Homo sapiens: one gene and its partners. The main gene of each other region encodes a partner of the protein of the gene in region 3 in a complex. Each region holds a gene or a part of one and is shown on either strand. Other genes may lie near its edges.

Region 1 (7,114 bases), on a different chromosome or scaffold from region 3:
AAACTAAGTGAGAGCTACCAAATATAAAGGATTATCCACAACTAACAGTATTACAGGTAATCACTGTCGAGTTCTAAATTTCCTTTTCTATTAGAACATAACTTTCCCCACACACCGAATCTGTACTCAGGTGTGCATTTATCCCTAGATTCAGTCTGAGGAGTTGAAAAGTGACAAAGGGATGGATGGCTTCCTGACTACTATGAAAATGTCCCCTGACCCACATATTTCAATATAGTATTAAGCCTTGTTTTCATTACCTGAAATGTATGTTTGCTTACAAACAGGTTTCCTTGAATCTATTCTCCCCACCTCCTCCAATCAAGGAGCAAAGAGAACACCAGAGAAGCTGGAGCACAGTGAACAAGGGGAAACTGGCATGAGATGAGACTATAACAGAAAGAAGAGAGGCCACATCACAGAACAGGGAGGAGGGAGGAATGTTGTGGGTCAAGTTAAATATTTGGGGTTTATTCTACGTAAAATAAAAAGTAAAAGGCCAGGCATGGTGGCTCACACCTGTAATCCCAGCACTTTGGGAGGCCAAGGTGGGCGGGTCACTTGAGGTCAGGAGTTCAAGACCAGCCTGGCCAACATGGTGAAACCCCATCTCTACTAAAATCATAAAAATTAGCCAGGCATGGTGGCGGGCACCTGTAATCCCAGCTACTCGGGAGGCTGAGGCAGGAGAATTGCTTGAAACCGGGAGGAAAGATTGCAGTGAGCCAAGATCGCACCACTGCACTCCAGCCTGGGCAACAAAGCAAAACTCTGTCAAAAAAAAAAAGGAAAAAAAGAGTTCCAATGCTCAGTATAATTTTGTGTTTTTATTGTGGGAAGCAGTAATGTTGCATCCCTGCCTTTCCTCTTTATTAAGCGTTTTATCTAAGTATGATGGACTAGAAAGGATAAAATCAACATGGTCCCCTTCCTTTTTCTTTTTTTTTCAGAAACTTACAAACTTTCTCACAAACTTGTTTAAGAATAAAAATATGGGGAGTGACATGATCAGATTTTACATTTTTTAAAAATGGCTGCTGTGTGAAAAATAGGGGTAATAATATATCCTGGCAGATCAATTAGGAAGCAGTATATCTAGGTGAAAAATCATTGTTCTGTGCAACGAGAGAGGTAAAGATGAAGTGGCCATATTTGAAAATATTTAGGAGGTAGAATTTAGAGAACACTGAGAGGTCTTAAAGTGACCCTGGATATTACTCAGGAGCCTCTGGATGAATGGCAGCCCCAGTCCCTAGGGAAGTATATACTGCCAGACATTAAGTTGCTGGAAGTATAAAGAAAAAGAGAATCCATTTTTTGGATGGGTTAGCTTCGAAAACCTATGAGTCACCTAAGTGCAAATGTCTCACAAGCTTCCTCTTCATCATTTCTCACTGAACATCTCCATTAAGGCTTCACAATCAGGATGCTGGCAATTAGAACCTGTATCTTTCTTCCATGGCTGCTCCATTTACTGATCAATGCCACCAACTACCAGAGATGTTATAAAGGGATTCCTACATGTGATAGAGAAGGCTGAAACATAAAACATCTGAAGTCACACTGATAAGCCTCTATTACTCACAGATTCATCCACAACACTGGAGTTATTCCCGCTACAAAGGTTAACCTTAAGGAAAGAGTTAATTCATAATTCTGCAAACACTGAAAACAAATACAAATGTATTAAGGAATACTTTTATCCATAGACTGCTTTACTAGTAACATTACAAGAATAAGATGAATTTTGAAATAGACTTTAAAAAATAATTTCAATAGTTAAATGTCAGTTCTTAATTAACCATCTTGATTTTCTGATGTAAAAAATGTACAGCAATTATCGTCCAGCTGACAAAAAGCCACAATCTTTATTAGTAAATCCTATTATATAGCACAACACTGCCACCTGTTGGAAGAGATAACTAGCCAAATGTTTTTATTCCTAAACACTAAATGCATGAGAAAGTTTATGAATTTCTCAAAAAAAAATGAAGAGACTGTTGACTTTATCCTTTCTAGCCCAACATGCTTAGATTAAATCCCTAATAAAGAGGAAAAGCAAGGATGTAATGTAACTGCTTCCCACAATAAAAACACAAAATGGCATTTACTTTTTGGTTTTGGTTATTTGGGTAAGGGGAAGATTTAACCATGAAGAGATAGCACTAGGGAGTTTTTGAGGTGAGGCAACTATTCTGCATCCTGACTATGGTGTTGGTTATAGAAATCAGTACATGGGTTAAAATTTATAATATAAAAAGTTTATTTTACTGTACGGTAATTTAAAAAAAAAACAAGGTAAGAGAATACAAATACTCAGTACCATGGGAAAAGTCGTAAGTTATAATGTGAAAGTATTCACATAAATTTCAAAGTTTTGCTACTTATAGCTCAAAGGCTTGAAGCCCAAAAAACATTAGAAAGATTCTAATGTAATACTGCATGCTGACATACTTAAATATGGATGTAGAAGTGTTTCTAAAGACTACCATTGCACACCAGAAGTCAATCTTTGCCCCTAGCACAGAACATTTCAATGAGAGGAACAATCTATAACCAAAAGTTAGGACATTCACCGTTGATTCTGGTAACTTTTTTTTTTTTTTTTTGAGACAGGGTCTCACTCTGTCACTCAGGCTGGAGTGCAGTGGCGCCACTGCAACTCACTACAGCCTCGACCTCCCAGACTCAGGTGATCTTCCCACCTCAGCCTCCTGAGCAGCTGGAACCAAAGGTGTGCACCACCATGCCCAGCTAGTTCTTTTGTATTTTTAGTAGAGAGATGGGGTTTCGCCACTTTGCCCAAGCTGGTCTCAAACTCCTGGACTCAAGTGATCTGCCCACCTTGGCCCCCCAAAGTGCTGGGATTACAGGCATGAGCCACCACGCCTGGCTAGGAAATGCTTTTCCCTACGACAAAACGAGAGTCTCGTTCTATCGCCCAGGCTAGAGTGCAATGGCACAATCTCAGCTCCCTGCAACCTCTGCCTCCCAGGTTCAAGAGATTCTTGTGCCTCGTACCAGCTGCGAGTAGCTAGGACTACAGGCACATGCCATCACGCCCAGCTAATTTTTGTATTTTTAGTAGAGACGGGGTTTCACCATGTTGGCCAGGCTGGTCTGGAACTCCTGATCTCAAGTGATCCGACTGCCTTGGCCTCCCAAAGTGCTGGGATTACAGGCATGAGCCACCACGCCCAGCTAGTACATTCTTTATGTGATTGCATTTCATCTCCCTCAAAAAGCTGGTGCATAAACAGGGAAAGTTGGGTGCTTGGCATCTATGTAATCTTGGTATTTGCTAGATCACTTATGAATGCAAGTGACATCAAAGTTCCACGAGATCTGGAACATCTAAGTCCATCTGGGGACCTTTCCAGTACATTTGCAAATGCCAAATGTCTTAAGGCACCAAGAGCCCACAAGATAAAAGATCACCAGAGTCCAAATGACAGAGACCCAAACTAAGAGCAAAAGTCACATTAAGATACCAGTTCCTCCCATCTCTCCTGATAATATACTTGCTGTTAATAAAATGATATGGGTTGTAAAGTAATAATGAAATATTAAACTGAGACCTTATGAAAGCTGTTGCAATGGGAGGGAGAGGTTGGTAGAAAGGGTGTAACACATATAATCCTCTACCCTTTATCCCTTAGGGCTGCCCTTAAGCCATCCTGTTCCCAGGATCTGGCAGCTACATGCAATCTTAGTTTTCTAAGTTTTGGTTGAGCCACACTGTTGTCTGTTTTTCTACATTTTCCCAGTGATCCCTGGGAGGTCACAGCTATTCAAATGGATTGCAGTACCCACAATAATTTGCAGTTCCAACAACAGGAGAATAGTTGAAAAAAGAATGATACAGTCGTAAAAGAGAATAATGCTGGTCATCTCCTAATCTTCAACTAATGACATGGTTATATTTGCATTGAGGGAGGTAAACTTGCCTGTCAGAAGCAGCAATAGTCACAGCACACCAGGGTAATTGCCAAAGCATCCAAATGGAGCAGTAGTATGATACCGGAATAATTCACAGACTTTTGGAACTATACAAGTTTGCAAACTCACCTCCATTTTAGAGTCTGTCATGATGGGTAATTTCCCCAAAAAGACTAAAAACACAGAAAGCATTAAGAAAAAAAAAAGGCCAGGCAAGGTGGCTCACACCTGTAATCCCAGCACTTTGGGAGGCTGAGGTGGGCGGATCGCTTGAGCTCAGGAGTTTGAGCCCAGCCTGGGCAACATGGCAAAATCCCATCTCAACAAAAAATATAAAAATTAGCCCGGCGTGGTGGCATGTGCCTGTAGTCCCAACTACTTGAGGGGCTAAAGCAGGAGGATCACTTGAGCCCATGAGGTCAAGGCTGCACTGAGCCATGTTCATGGCACTGCACTCCAGCCTGGGTGACAAAGTGAGACCCTGTCTCAAAAAACAAAAACCAAAAAATCTTGGATCATAGAGATGTTTACAATTTGGAAAACTATCCATGATAAACTTTTTATTTAGTCTGAATTGCAATAATTTTAAAACTCAAAGATCTCCAAGTCCTAATACAAAAACACCTACACCCCTTCAAGTAGGAAATAGTCCTTTGGAAAGGTAAACGTGATAATCCATGCCTAAATTACACAATTCCTTTAAATCTCATCTTTTATGCAAATAACAAAAACACTAAAGCATACGGGCAGTTCCTCAAAAAAATCAACAGAATTACCCTACAATCCAGCAATTCCACTTCTGGATACGTATACCTAAAAGAACTGAAAGCACAGCCAGGCGCGGTGGCTCACACCTGTTATCCCAGCACTTTGGGACACTGAGGTGGGCGGATCCCTTGAGGTCAGGAGTTCAAGACCAGCCTGGCCAACATAGCAAAACCCTGTCTCTACTAAAAATATAAAAATTAGCCTGCGTGGTGGTGCACGCCTGTAGTCCCAGCTACTCGAGAGGCTGAGGCAGGAGAATCACTTGAACCAGGAGGCAGAGGTTGCAGTGAGCCAAGATCACACCACTGCACTCCAGCCTGGGAGACAGAGCAAGACTCCATCTCAAAGAAAAAAAAAAAAAGAATTGAAAGCAGGAACTCAGACATTTGTATACCAATGTTCACAGCAGCACTATTCACAATAGCCAAAAGGTGGCAACAACCCAAATATCTATCGACTAATGAATGGATAAACAAAATGTGTTCTATGGAATACAATGTAATACTATTCAGTCTTTAAAAAAATGAAAATTCCAACACATGCCACAACATGAATTAACCTTGAAGACATGCTAAATGAAATAAACCAGACTCAAAAGGACAAATATTTTATGATTCCACTTTTATGAGGACCCTAGAATAGTCACATTCATAGACAGAAAATATAATGGTAGTTGCCAGGGACTGGAAAGAGGGAGGAACGGAGATTTATCATTTAATGGGTGCAGTGTGTGGAGATAAAAGTGCTCTGGGTCGGGCGCAGTGGCGCACGCCTGCAATCCCAGCACTTTGGGAGGCTGAGGTGGGCAGATCACCTGAGGTCGAGAGTTCAAGACCAGCATGACCAACATGGAGAAACCCCGTCTGTACTAAAAATACAAAATTAGCTAGGTGTGGTGGCGCATGCCTGTAATCCCAGCTACTCGGGAGGCTGAGGCAGGAGAATCACTTGAACCCGGGAGGTGGGGGTTGCGGTAAGCTGAGAACACGCCACTGCACTCCAGCCAGGGCAACATGAACGAAACTCCATCTCAAAAAAAAAAAAAGAAAAAGAAAAAAGTGTTCTGGAGATAGATGGTGGTTATGGTTACACAACAATGTTAAAGTACTTAATGGCACTGAACTGTATCTTTACAAATAGTTAAAATGGCCAATTTTATGTTATGTATATTCTATCACAATTTTAAAAAAGAAAAGACAAAACACTGAAACAAGAAACACACAGTTCTAACTGGAATCAAGCCAAGGGGAAAGAATGAAATCTTGGCCATTATATGTAAACAGAGAGATGCAATTTTTTTCTGGAAGCTATTGTATATCACTTTCCTTAGATTCTCAAAATGCTCAGTTTCTAAAAATACTTTTACTACTGGCTGGGCGCAATGGCTCATGCCTATAACCCCAGCACTTTAGGAGGCCGAGGCGGTGGATCACCTGAGGTCAGGAGTTCCAGACCAACCTAGCCAGCATGGTGAAACCCCGTCTCTACTATAAAACAAAAAAATTAGCTGGGCATGGTGGCAGTCACCTGTAATCTCAGCTACTCAGGAGGCTGGGGCAGGAGAATCACTTGAACCCAGGAGGCGGAGGTTGCAGTAAGCCGAGATCGCACCATTGCACTCCAGCCTGGGTACCAAGAGCGAAACTCCATCTCAAAAAATATATATATTATATATATACTATATATATTACTACTACTGCCTTTTAACCAACAAAATTAAAAAAATACAAAACAATGTTAATAGGATTTTATAAAACTACTTTTTCCAACATGCCCCAAACAATACAGAACACAATAGCTACACTCAACCTCTGCATACATTAAATAATCTTCAAATAAATGCCTGCTAGTATGAAAAAAGTACCTACTATTTGGTGACCAACTGTCCAATATGGCTCTCACAAATCTAATGCAGCATATGAAACATGAACAAGAGGATAAAAGAATAACTTCTTGGAGTCTGTTTAAAATAGAGAGTTAAATGAACAAAGTTGAAGCAGATCATGGCACATTTTTCAAGGCAGAGAGACAGGGAGGCAACAATGTCTGAAACAATGAACACTCTTAGGCTAAATATACCACCAGGGACTCAGATGTCACACTAACTGGGAACTACTATGTCAGTTTCTATAACTCCTATAATTAAAGAACAATATCCTAAACTATTAGCCAGAAGGCTTTTAGAGGCAAAGTCCTGACTACACAAAAATGTAAAACAATATAGTAAAAAATATAAAACAAAGTTAACTAAATAGATTGAAAATATCTGCCACATATCTAACAGTCAATGGCTTAAATCCCTACACAAAGAACTCCTAAAAATCAATAAAGACAAAACTCCATACGGAATGGCAAATTATAAAGTTTTTCCTTGCTTCATTTTTCAAGTCTTAAAATGCTCCTCACG
Region 2 (5,558 bases), on a different chromosome or scaffold from region 3:
CTCCTTCTGCCTAGTTAACATACATACTCTCAGTGCCCTTACAGAATTATGTGTATACCTCTCAAATCCTCTCATAGTATGTGTTCACACTTACTCCTCCTCAATTGAGTTCCTTCTAGGTAAGGAATGTTTGTTTTCTTTCTTTTTTTTTTTTTTGATATGGAGTTCTGCTCTGTTGCCCAGGCTGGAGCACAGTGGTGAGATCTCAGCTTACTGCAACCTCCGCCTCCTGGGTTCAAGCGATTCTCCTGCCTCAGCCTCCCAAGTAACTGGGATTACAGGCATACACCATCATGCCCAGCCAATTCTTTTGTACTTTTAGTAGAGACGAGGTTTTGCCATGTTGGCCAGGCTGGTCTCAAACTCCTAACCTCAGGTGATCCGCCTTCCCTGGCCTCCCAAAGTGCTGGGATTACAGGCGAGAGCCACCATGCCCAGCCAGAATGTTTCTTATTATATTTAACACAGTGCCTGAGAAATAGCTCAATAAATGTTTGATGAATGAATGAATATATAACTGCACAGATGAGACCTTAAAGCCCAAACCCATTTCCACATACAAAGAGGAAAGATGAAACTTTTATTGTTACATTTATTGACACTGGATATTTATTATCTGTTATATACCAGGCAAAATGGACACACCATCAGGAGATAAGACCTGTATCTTACGTGTAAGATGAAACTTATATTTATTGATTGAATTATTGAATACTTTTTGAGTATTTGCTATATACCAGGCAAAAGGCACAGAACAAATTATTTGTTCACAGTTACTTTTAACTCTTTCAGCAATGCCTGAGTCCTCTTTATAGAAACTTCATTTTGCTAAGTTAGCAACCATTCATTTTTTTGGTTACTCTTCATGTATAGTTTTCTCAAGTGTCTCTTCAAATACTGCATAATGGTATAGACCATTTAATATTCCAAACATAATCTGAAAGACTAGAGGAATCGCCATTAATTTCATTTGTGTTTGACAAAGCGTCATCCAATGGATTAAAACCCTTCCTTTTGGTGGCAGTGGAACGGTATGATACCTAAAAAGAAAAAAGAGTTAATCACCTCTCCTGGATATGAATGCTATTAGAAGTTTGTTGACTTCTCCTAAATTGATAATTGCCTTTCTAGATCTATAATGTAGAGAGCAAAAAAGTTAAAAGTTAGCTATCTGAAATACCAAACTACCACATTTTGATTCAAATATATCATAGACAGCTAAAGAAGAAAGAGAGTTTATTAACCTAAAAAAAAAAAAAAAAAAGAAAAGAAAAGAAAAGAAAAAAGAAGGAAAAGGAAGAACTTACTTGGTTGCCAGGCGTCCATTTTTAGTAAAAGCCAAAGAACTGGGATAGAAAACACCACAAACTATGCCAATCAGTGAGCTTCTGAAAACACAGTTTTCCTTGCTTATATTATCTGGAAAACAAAAGTAAATTTGGTTTTCCTTTAAAACTCAAGAGCTATTAAGACAGTGTTGTACCTCACAGAGTAGTTATCTGCACTATCCTCAACCACAACTAAACCATAGAAAGAATATTAGAAATTCAAACTCTGTGGCATATAACAGGCCAAATGCAGCACATTTTAAAAAGTTTTTATTATACTTTATCACATAGAGAATTACCTCTAACGTATGTGGTTGTTGTAGAAGCAATTTTATTTTATTTTTTGGAGACGGAGTCTCACTCTGTTGCCCAGGCTAGAGTACAGTGGCACGATCTCGGCTCACTGCAACCTCTGCCTCCAGGGTTCAAGCAATTCTCATGCCTCAGCCTCCCAAGTAGCTGGGATTATAAGCTTGCACCACCATGCTCAACTGTTTTTCTATTTTTAGTAGAGACTGTGTTGGCCAGGCTGGTCTCGAACTCCTGACCTCAAGTGATCTGCCTGTCTTGGCCTCCCAAAGTGTTGGGATTATAGGCATGAGCCACCGTGCCCAGCCAGAAACAATTTTATAATGACAATACTAAACTAGCAAACCAGACCTGGATTCTAGGTTAATACATTTTTATTATCTACTATATATCAGGAACGTGCTAGGAGCTAGGAATACGGTGGTACATAAAAGAGACCTGATCTCTGACCTTCTGGCCAGTTTACAGAGATGAAAGACACGAGATAAATATTTAAATAGATAATTATCAGTGTACACAATACTTTGAAGATAAACTATATAGAGAATGTATCCAGACACCTAGTGTACAATGAGGCAATCAGAGGTCTCCCTGGGGAAAAGATACTTAAGCAGGAACCTGAAGAATGAACAAGGGATAGATGCTCTATCAATTACTAGTTGTGAAACTCAAGGTAAGGTGAGGGGCAGGAAATAACATTAAAAGCCCATAATATGACAGATATTGTGGTAGTCATTTAACCTACAGTATCTTTTAATTCTCACAACAATCCTGTGAGGTAAGTACTATTAGTCCTAACTTATAGATAAGACAACGGAGGCTCAGAGATGAAATGCCTTACTGAATGTCACAAAACTTAAGTGGCAGGAGGTAGCATACTGAAATGATGTGCGTTGTATGCCACAGCCAATTCTTTTCCCAGTATGTTGCTTATTAGCGTACTTGAACATGCCTCAGTTTGGGTTGCTTATCTACAGAAATAAAAAAATACAGTTTACCTGATTAGGAGGATTGTTGCAGGGATTAAATATGACAAGGTATATGGACTTTGTAAACTGTATAGCAATATATAAATGTAAAGAATTATTATTAGCAGTAGCAACAGTATATGTTAATAAGTAACTTTACTTAGACATAACTACGTTATACATTAGTGAATTTAAATTCACCTGAATACAAAGCATCAATTACAAAAAGCTTGTCAGTAACAACAGTAGACAAAAATGGAAGTGTAGCCAATGATGCATATGTCTTCAAAGCATCATGTTTAACCTTGAAGCAGCGTCTGAACAGGAAGTTTGAGAATATTCCAGAGAAACCAGCTGTTGTTCCAAATGTCGCCATTTGATATATATTTTGTGTCCTAATAGAAAAAAAGAAAAATTCAGTTCACTATACCATTGAACTTAATGGATACAGCCTCTCCTGAAAAGTTGTTATTGCATATCAATATCAAATATTTCTTGAGCACTTACTATATGTGAAAAGTATTTTCTAAGTGCTTAAGATAGGACAGTAAACAAAGCAAAAGAAAAAAAGAAATTTCCCACCCCTCATAGAACTTGTATTCTAATGAGAGGACATGATTCTCTTTCTAAGAATATTTACAGTAATTCTAAAATAGAGCTCTTTTAAATAATTTTGGCCACAAATAAATATAAATATGTTCCAATGCAGCCAAATTTTATGAGCTACCCAAATCCAAGAATACCTTTCCTGCAACTAAAAGATTTACTTTGCTTAAGTTCATCTAAAAAAAAGCTGTTTACATTTGGTTAGGCCTTCTATTTCTTCATTAGTCCCAGATACATTTAAAATAATTTGTCCTGAACAGACACTTCTCAAAAGAAGACATTTATGCAGCCAAAAAACACATGAAAAAATGCTCACCATCACTGGCCATCAGAGAAATGCAAATCAAAACCACAATGAGATACCATCTCACATGAATTAGAATGGCAATCATTAAAAAGTCAGGAAACAACAGGTGCTGGAGAGGATGTGGAGAAATAGGAACACTTTTACACTGTTGGTGGGACTGTAAACTAGTTCAACCATTGTGGAAGTCAGTGTCACGATTCCTCAGGGATCTAGAACTAGAAATACCATTTGACCCAGCCATCCCATTACTGGGTATATACCCAAAGGACTATAAATCATGCTGCTATAAAGACACATGCACACGTATGTTTATTGTGGCACTATTCACAATAGCAAAGACTTGGAACCAACCCAAATGTCCAGCAATGATAGACTGGATTAAGAAAATGTGGCACATATACACCATGGAATACTATGCAGCCATAAAAAATGATGAGTTCATGTCCTTTGTAGGGACATGGATGAAGTTGGAAATCATCATTCTCAGTAAACTATTGCAAGAACAAAAAACCAAACACCGCATATTCTCACTCATAGGTGGGAAATGAACAATGAGAACACATGGACACAGGAAGGGGAACATCACACTCTGGGGACTGTTGTGGGGTGGGAGGAGAGGGGAGGGATAGCTTTAGGAGATCTACCTAATGCTAAATGATGAGTTAATGGGTGCAGCACACCAGCATGGCACATGTATACATATGTAACTAACCTGCACATTGTGCACATGTACCCTAAAACTTAAAGTATAATAATAATAAAATAAAAAAAAATAAAAGGGAATGAGGGAACTTTTTGGGGATGTTGGAAGTATTCCAAATTTTAATTGTGGTGATGGTTACATAACTGTATAAATTTGCTAAAACTCATATAACTGTACACTTTAAATGGATGAATGTCAAGATATATAAATTATACTTCAATAAAGCCATAAAACAGAAAATGAAATAAAATAAAATAAAATAAAATAATTTGTCCAAGATTTATAAAACTTCATCCAAAAAAATCTGATTTAGTTTTCTTATTAAGACCCATATGTAAATCCAGGAAATAACATCAACTGTCCTTTGATTTTTTTCTTGAACTTTGTTCATTTAAAAGTCAAAATGGCCAGTCTGGCCAACATGGTTAAACCATCTCTACTAAAAATACAAAAATTAGCTGGTTGTGGTGGTACACGCCTGTAATCCCAGCTACTTGGGAGGCTGAGGCAGGAGAATCACTTGAACCTGGGAGCTGGAGATTGCAGTGAGCCGAGATTGTGCCACTGCACTCCAGCCTGGGTGACAGAGTGAGACTCTTATCTCAAAAAAAAAAGTCAATATGTTAATGTGAGACTATATTTATACCATGAAATCTGTATTCCCTTTTGCTGTACTAAGTACTGTGGCTGAGATAATCAATCCTAAACTGATTATAATTACTCACCAATTAAATATAAGTACCCCCCTCAATGGTTTTCTCCTAATTACTTTTAATTAAAATACATTTACTGCACAAAAGTTTTAGCAATACTTTTGGATACTTTTTAAGAAACAAAAGAAATTATCCACAATCCGAAATATTCCAACAAACCACCATTTTCATCTGTTCTTGTTTCCCCCATTCTTTTTTTTAAAGATGTGTTCTTCATAGCCAACTCAAAGAATAGGATCTTAGATAACAGAAAAGGTAAGAAAGAATAGGATCTTAGAAACAATGGCAATACAAAAGACTTGCAAATAAAATGACTGATTTTCAGCCTGGGCATTTCTCTTACATTTCTTTTCTAAGATAGTCAAAATTTTTTTCTATGATTTCTATGACCATTGGTCTTCTGAGTTTTGCATCTTCTAGAGAAGGACTGGGCTGACCATGCATAGATGCTGCCATCTTGAAAACCTGGAAAAAAAAATTCCAGAGCCATAATAGCTAATGATATTCATATTACATAAAACCTTACAGAATTCTACAGATTCAGATTTGAAAACATTTACAGTTTAGTAGTGTGCCAGGTACTGTGTCGTCTGCTTTCACATACTTTGTTAGTAATTCAATCAA
Region 3 (7,927 bases):
CCCGAGTAGCTGGGATTACAGGCACATGCCACCATGCCTGGCTAATTTTTGCGTTCTTAGTACAGACAGGGTTTCACCATCTTGTCCAGACTGGTCTTGAACTCCTGACCTTGTGATCCACCTGCCTTGGCCTCCCAAAGTGCTGGGATTACAGGCATGAGCCACTGCGCCAGGCCCAAATCTGCATTTTAGCGAGTCCCTGGTATCTCCTGTGAGCATTAAAGTTTGAGAAGTGGTGATCTGTGTGCTGATGGCTCCCCAATGTTCACCTCAATCCCTGGGCCCCAGCCTTTATACCTAACTGCCACTTTGGCATATACCCAGCCATCTCAAACATAATTTGCTCCAAACTGATATCCTTGCTTAAACTTGATCCTCTCCATCCTATCCAATCGCACCACTACTACTGGCCATTCAGGCTACAAACCTAGGAGACATTTCTGAGTCCACTATGTCCCTCACTCTCCTATTCAATCCATCAACTAGTCTAGGTGACTACTTCCAAATCCATCCCAAATGCATCTCTTTCTATCTGAAGCCACCACCTCAATCTATGACTTGGATACCTATCAAGCCTCCCACTTTTGCCCTTCCTGCCTCCAGTCAGTTCTCCCCACTATGGCCAGAGGGAGCTTTTTTTTTTTTTTTTTGGAGACAGAGTCTCACTCTGTTCCCCAGGCTGGAGTGCAATGGCGCATCTCGGCTCACTGCAACCTCCGCCTCCCCAGTTCAAGTTGGTTCTCATGCCTCAGCCTCCCGAGTAGCTGGGACTACAGGTGTGTGCCACCACACCCAGCTAATTTTTTGTATTTTAGTAGAGATGGGGTTTCATCATGTTGCTCAGGGTGGTCTCGAACTCCTGAGTTCAAGCAATCCACCCATCTTGGCCTCCCAAAGTGCTAGGATTACAGGTGTGAGCCACCACACCCAGCCAGAGGGAGCTTTTAAACTAAAATTAGGCCAGGCGCTGTGGCTCACGCCTGTAATCCCAGCACTTTGGGAGGCTGAAGCAGGTGGATCACAAGGTCAGTTCAAGACCAGCCTGGCCGAGATGGTGAAAGCCCGTCTGTACTAAAAATACAAAAATTAGCCAGGTGTGGTGGCAGGCACCTGTAATCCCAGCTATTCGGGAGCCTGAGGCAGGAGAATCACTTGAACCTGGGAGGTGGAGGTTGCAATGAGCCAAGATTGTGCCACTGCACCCCAGTCTGGGCGACAGAGCGAGATTCCATCGCTAAATAAATAAATAAATCAACTAAAATTAGTGATTTCTGCCTAAAATCGCTAACGGCATATCACACTTAAAATCAGAGACTGGGCACACTGGCTCATGCCTGTAATCCCAACACTTTGGGAGACCAAGGTAGGAGGATCACTTGAGCCCAGGGATTCAAGACCAGCCTGGGCAACATAGAGAGACCCCATCTCTACAAAAAAATTAAGAATTATCCAGGCATGGTGGTGAATGCCTGTCATCTCAGGTACTCAGGAGACTGAGGCTGGAGGATCCTTTAAGGTCAGTAGTTAGAGGTTGCAGTGAACCATGACTGCACTTGTGAATAGCCACTGCACTCTAGCCTGGGCAACATACTGAGATCCTGTCTCTAAAAATAAATAAATAGCCAGGGAGCAGTGGCTCATGCCTATAATCCTAGTGCTTTGGAAGTCCAAGTGGGGAGGATCGCTTGAGCCCAGGAGTTCAAGACCAGCCTGGACAACATAGCAGGACACGATCTTTACAAAAATTATTTTAAAAAATTAGCTGGACCTGGTGGTGTGCACCTGTAGTTCCAGCTACTGGGAAAGCTGAGGCAGGAGAATCACTTGAGCCATGGAGTTTGAGGCTGCAGTGAGCTATGGAGTGCACTGCACCACTGCACTCCAGGCTTGACGAACAAGTGAGATCCTGTCTCTAAAAAATAAAAATAAATAAATAAAATCAGATAGGGTCTACCCCTCTAAACTCAACTCCTACCACTGGCAGCTTCAGCTACACTGTTTCTGAAAGAAACTAAGTTTATCCCATCTCAGAACCTTTGTACTTGCTTTTCTCTCTGTCTAGAGCTTTCTTCCTCCAGATCTGCCCACAGCTGTCTCTGGTCATTTCAATGAAAGGTCTTCTTTGACCATCTCCCATTCCCCACATTCTAAAAGCCCTCATCACCCTATTAATTTTTGTTTCGGAGACAGGGTCCTGCTCTGTTGCCCAGGCTGGGGTGCAGTGGCACAATCACGGCTCACTACAGCCTCAACCTCCTGGGCTCAAGCAATCCTCCCACCTCAGCTTCCCGAGTAGCTAGGACTACAGGCGTGCACCACTACGCCCAGATAATTTTTTGTAGAGAACAGGGTCTTGCTATGTTGCCAAGGCTGGTCTCGAAACTCCTGGGCTCAAGCGAAATTCCCGACACCATTAACGCATTTTTAGTAACTTATCAGTATCTGAAATCACCTGTTTCGTTTATTTCTAATTTGTTCAAAGTCTGGTTCCCCCAGGAGATGAGAGATTTTTATCTATCTTCCTCATTGCTGTGTCTCCAGCACCAAGGACAGTGCCTGGTATATGACAGATGCCTAACGAGTAACAACTGAACGGAAACAAGCCTCAATTTCAAAAAAACACCTATAAATCTGAACCCCGAGGTATGGTGTACGTACAACAGCTTTGAAACCGGCTGCCAGGATTCTGGGTCTCTTGGGGGAAAAAGGCAGACGCGGATTCCAAATCCTGCCCGGTTGCCGACTTGCGGCGTGACCTCTCGCGAGGTCATCTGCAAAATGGGAGACTGGGGGCGTGAGGCGGCTGGCACAAGACAGGCGGCCTTTCCCAGCGCGTCCCCGCCCCCACTACGAAAGGTCATGGCGCCCTGGCCCTGCAGCTGGGTCCCTCCAGGGCTGCCCTCTCGCGCTGCCGGGTCCTGAAGGGCCCGCCTGCAGCCCAGCAGTTCGCGTTCGCCTACCCGCGCGCGACCTACCTACTCACGCGGCCAGCCGCGGACTCCAGGCCAGCTCTGTCTTGTTGCTGGGCGCTGCCATATTGGCCCAGAGAGCGTCCGGGTCAGGGAGCTCCAGGGAGGTAGCAAATCAAGAAAGCTGGTGTAATAGGTCCCGCCCACAACGCGAGGTGGGCCAATAGGAAGGCGGAAGGATCTGGGACCCGCCTCATAACGAGCCAGGCCCAGCCTCTAATGAGGCAAGACGCACTCCAGACCTGGGAACCTTGAAATGGCCCGGGAGGCTGGACTTGGGAGTCATAGTCTATGAATCCAGTCGCAGGCCCCAGCGGCTGAAATGAGAAAATGAATTAAAAAAAAACAAAAAGTGAAAGGGGGCCGGTACGGTGGCTCATGCCTGTAATCCCAGCACTTTGGGAGGCCAGAAGTTCGAGACCAGCCTGGGCAACATAGCGAGACCCCCTTATCTACAAAAAATTTAAAAATTAACTGGGCATGATGGCGCATGCTCATAGTCCCAGCTATTCGGGAGGCTGAAACGGGAGGATCGCTTGAGCCCTGGAGGTCGAGGCTACAGCGAGCCATGATTGCACCCCTGCACTCCAGCCTGGGCAACAGAGTGAGACCCTGTTTCTAAAAATAGTAATAATAAATAAATAGGGCAGGGCGCGGTGGCTCACGCCTGTAATCCCAACACTTTGGGAGGCCGAGGCCTGCGGATCACCTGAGGTCAGGAGTTCGAGACCAGCCTGGCCAACATGATGAAACCCCGTCTCTACTAAAAATACAAAGTTAGCAGGGCATGGTGGTGGGTGCCTGTAATCCCAGCTTCTCGGGAGGTTGAGGCAGGAGAATCGCTTGAACCCGGGAGACGGAGGTTGCAGTGAGCCAGGATAACACCACTGCACTCCAGCCTCAGCAACAGAGCGAGACTCTGTCTCAAAAAATAAATAAATAAATAAAAATTAGTGGGGCGTGGTGGCGTGCTCCTGTGATCCCAGCTACTCGGGAGGCTGAGGCACGAGAATTGCTTGAACCCAGGAGGTGGAGGTTGCAGCGAGCCGATATAGCACCACTGCACTCCAGCCTGGGCGACAGAGTGAGACTCCGTCTCAGTAAATAAATAAATAGGAAGGCCTCAGTGAGGTGTCCTTTGAGTAAAGGCCGGAGGAAGTGAGTGAGCCATCTGGATATCTGGGGAACGCTTTTGGCACTGGGAACAACAGCAAAGACTCTGTGTGGTCGGAGTGGAGTCTTTGGAGGAAATGGGATAAAACGAGGTGAGATTGAGTAATGGGGGCTCCTGGTCTCCCCCAGAAAGCACCAGATTTAGGCTGTTAATAACTAAGGTGGATAAGCACATAAAATGGGCTATTGGCAATAACAGTGTCCCCCGGGAAGGAAGGCTATCTGCCCTCATAAGCCCATTTCTGCAGTCCCTCAGCCTCTGTGGCGCAGTGAGCTGGCATGGAGACTAGGATGCAAGAACCTACCCTTAGGATGCCTCAAGGACTCTGCGCAGCCGCAGGACATCCACCTCATCAGAACTCTTGTGATTGGGCAATCTGAGAAAACCTGTAGCCAATCAGCTGCTTGGCTGGAGCACTCCTCTCTGGCAAGTTGACAGGCACGTGGGCAGCGGCTGGGAGCGCTACTGCCCTCTGCCAGGCTCCCGCAGCTACAAGCAAGCAGAGTCAGCTCTGCTTAGCTGGGGAGTGGGTAAGATGATGGGGTCGCTGACCTGGCTGTGGCCTTCAGAGTTATTGGTGTCCTTCTCTTGAGGTGGTCATGGCTTTTGTTTTCTTATTTATCCTTCCAGAACTAGTCTTTTAATATTTTATTTTATTTTATTTTATTTTATTTTTGGAGACGGAGTCTGGCTCTGTCGCCCAGGTTGCAGTGCAGTGGTGCAATCTCAGCTAATTGCAACCTCCGCTTCCCACATTCAAGCAATTCTCCTGCCTCAGCCTCCCGAGTAGCTGGGACTACAGGCGCATGCCACCATACCCGGCTAATTTTTGTATTTTTAGTAGAGATGGAGTTTCACCATGTTGCCTAGGCTGGTCTCCAACTCCTGGGCTCAAGCAGTCCTCCCGCTTCAGCCTCCCAAAGTGTCAGAATTACAGGCATTAGCCACCGTGCCCAGTCATTATTATTATTTATTTATTTATTTATTTTTTGAGACAGAGTCTTGCTCTGTCGCCCAGGCTGGAGTGCAGTGGCACGATCTCGGCTCACTGCAAACTCCGCCTCCTGGGCTCACGCCATTCTCCTGCCTCAGCCTCCCCAGTTGCTGGGACTGCAGGCGCCCGCCACCATGCCCAGCTAATTTTTTTGTATTTTTAGTAGAGACGGGGTTTCACTGTGTTCTCCAGGATGGTCTGATCTCCTGACCCCGTGATCTGCCAGCCTCGGCCTCCCAAAATGCTGGGATTACAGGCATGAGCCACCATGCCCGGCCTATTATTATTATTTTAAAATAGAGATGGGATCTTAATATGTTACCAAGGCTTGTCTCAAACTCCTGGGGTACTGCGATCCACCCATCTTGGCCTCCTAAAGTGCTGGGATTATAGGCATGTGCCACCACACCAGGCCAGTAGTCTTTTAAAAACAAGTAGGTACAGGCCGTGCGCGGTGGCTCACGCCTGTAATCCCACCACTTTGGGAAGCCGAGGCGGGTGGATCACGAGGTCAGGAGATCAAGACCATCCAGCCTAACAAGGTGAAATCCAGTCTCTACTAAAAAAAATACAAAAAATTAGCCAGGCGTGGTGGTGGGCGCCTGTAGTCCCAGCTACTCGGGAGGCTGAGGCAGGAGAATGGTGTGAACCCGGGAGGCGGAGCTTGCAGTGAGCCGAGACTGCACCACTGCACTCCAGCCTGGGCGACAGAGCAAGACTCCATCTCAAAAAAACAAACAGACAAACAACAACAAAAAAACCAAGAATGTACATATTTTATGTACTGTATGTATTAACACAGAACACCATATGTGAGGCCCTGGTGCAGAATCTTTAACATTACAGTCCCAGAAAGAACCCTATAAAAAGTAGTAGCTTCACAGTGAAAGATCCTAGCAGACACCACCTTAACCAAGGGACCAACATTTATATCACCAGCAATGAGTCATGGTGATATCATGAAGCCCTTGGTATGACACACTTAGAAGGATACATCATCACCTCTCTGGTATTCTTCCTGGTAATGCAAACACCTCAGTTTATTCAAGACAAACCAAACTCGAAGACAGTCTACAAAATAACTGACCAGCACTCTTCAAAAGTGTCAAGGTCCTGAAAGACCCAGGGACTATTATAGACTGTAGGAATGTATGGAGATATGACAATTAAATGCAATGAGGGCCAGGCACAGTGGCACTGTAGTTCTAGCTATTTAGGAGGCTGAGGCAGGAGGATCACTTGAACCCAGGAGTTCAAGTCCAGCCTGGGCATCATAGTGAGACCTCATCTCTAAGATAGATAGATAGATAGATAGATAGATAGATAGATAGACAGACAGACAGACAGACAGACAGACAGACAGAAAGAAAGAAACGCAATGGGCCGGATGCGGTGGCTCACACCTGTAATCCCAGCACTTTGGGAGGCCGAGGCAGACAGATCACAAGGTCAGGAGTTCAAGACCAGCCTGACCAACATGGTGAAACCCCCTGCCTCAGCCTCCCATGTAGCTGGGATTATAGGCTCCCACCATTACGCCCAGCTAATTTTTGTAGTTTTTGTAGAGATGGGGTTTTACCATGTTGGCCAGGGTGGTCTTGAACTCCTGACCTCAGGTGATTCACCCGCCTCAGCCTCCCAAAGTGTTGGGATTACAGGCGTGAGTCACTGCACCCAGCTGGAGTCCCCACTCTTAACCACAGCGCTACAGTGTCTTCATTTAGTTGAAACAACATGCTATATGTTTTAACTTCAACTTTGTCTATCTCCCTTGTCCCAGGTTGATGGGATTTATAGTGATTTATTATGACAAGGCCACTGCAATAAATGTTCCTGTACATATGTCATTCTTCACACCTACACTTGTACTTCTGAGGAATATTCTAAAATAGAGGATATACTTGTTCAGAAGGTAAGGACATTTGTCATTTGGGAAACTATCAACAAATTGCCCACACTCATCAACAATGTTCCCACAGCCTCCTCTGCGTTACATGTTGTCAAGCATTCTTTTATTTATTTATTTATTTATTTATTTATTTATTTATTTTTTTGAGACAGAGTCTCGCTCTGTCGCCCAGGCTGGAATGCAGTGGCACGATCTCAGCTCACTGCAAGCTCTGCCCCACAGCTTGACGCCATTCTCCTGCCTCAGCCTCCCAAGTAGCTGGGACTACAGGCGCCCGCCACCACGCCCGGCTAATTTTTTGTATTTTTAGTAGAGACAGGGTTTCACCATGTTGGCCAGGATGGTCTCGATCTCCTGACCTCGTGATCCGCCTGCCTTGGCCTCCCAAAGTGCTGGGATTACAGGCGTGAGCCACCACACCCGGCCGTCAAGCATTCTTTTCTTTTCTTATTTATTTATTTTTCACCCAAACTAAAATGCAATGGCATGGCTGGACACAGTGGCTCATGCCTGTAATCCCAGCACTTTGGGAGGCCAAGGCAAGCAGATTACCTGAGGTCAGTAGTTCGAGACCAGTCTGGCCAACATGGTGAAACCCCATCTCTACTAAAAATACAAAAATTAGCCCGGTATGGTGGTGGGCACCTGTAATCCCAGCTACTCAGGAGGCTGAGGCAGGATAATTGCTTGAACCTGGGAGGTGGAAGTTGCAGTGAGCTGAGATCATGCCACTGTACTCCGGCCTGGGTGACAGAGTGAGATTCTGTAAAAAAAAAAAAAAAAAAAAAAATAAGCAGTGTCATGATCATAGCTCACTGTAGCCTCCAACTCCTGGGCTCAAGCAATCCTCCTGCCTTGCCCTCCCAAAATGCACTTTTTTA

Evidence for each region.
Region 1: ECSIT (region 3) and COA1 share a complex: the UniProt entries of both Homo sapiens proteins name them as parts of the mitochondrial complex.
Region 2: ECSIT (region 3) and TMEM126B share a complex: the UniProt entries of both Homo sapiens proteins name them as parts of the mitochondrial complex.

What each region holds. Positions count from the first base shown.
Region 1 is NC_000007.14:43,719,500-43,726,613, forward strand, and holds part of COA1 (cytochrome c oxidase assembly factor 1 homolog), read right to left. Parts: intron 1-7,114. UniProt on the Homo sapiens protein: Component of the MITRAC (mitochondrial translation regulation assembly intermediate of cytochrome c oxidase complex) complex, that regulates cytochrome c oxidase assembly.
Region 2 is NC_000011.10:85,631,528-85,637,085, reverse strand, and holds the end of TMEM126B (complex I assembly factor TMEM126B, mitochondrial), read right to left. Parts: intron 5,400-5,558; coding exon 5,278-5,399; intron 3,001-5,277; coding exon 2,807-3,000; coding exon of another isoform or gene 2,781-2,806; exon of another isoform or gene 1,581-2,780; intron 1,420-1,580; coding exon 1,308-1,419; intron 1,041-1,307; coding exon 857-1,040; 3' UTR 550-856; downstream 1-549. UniProt on the Homo sapiens protein: As part of the MCIA complex, involved in the assembly of the mitochondrial complex I. Participates in constructing the membrane arm of complex I.
Region 3 is NC_000019.10:11,526,087-11,534,013, forward strand, and holds the start of ECSIT (evolutionarily conserved signaling intermediate in Toll pathway, mitochondrial isoform 1 precursor), read right to left. Parts: upstream 3,049-7,927; 5' UTR 2,976-3,048; intron 2,780-2,975; exon of another isoform or gene 2,659-2,779; intron 1-2,658.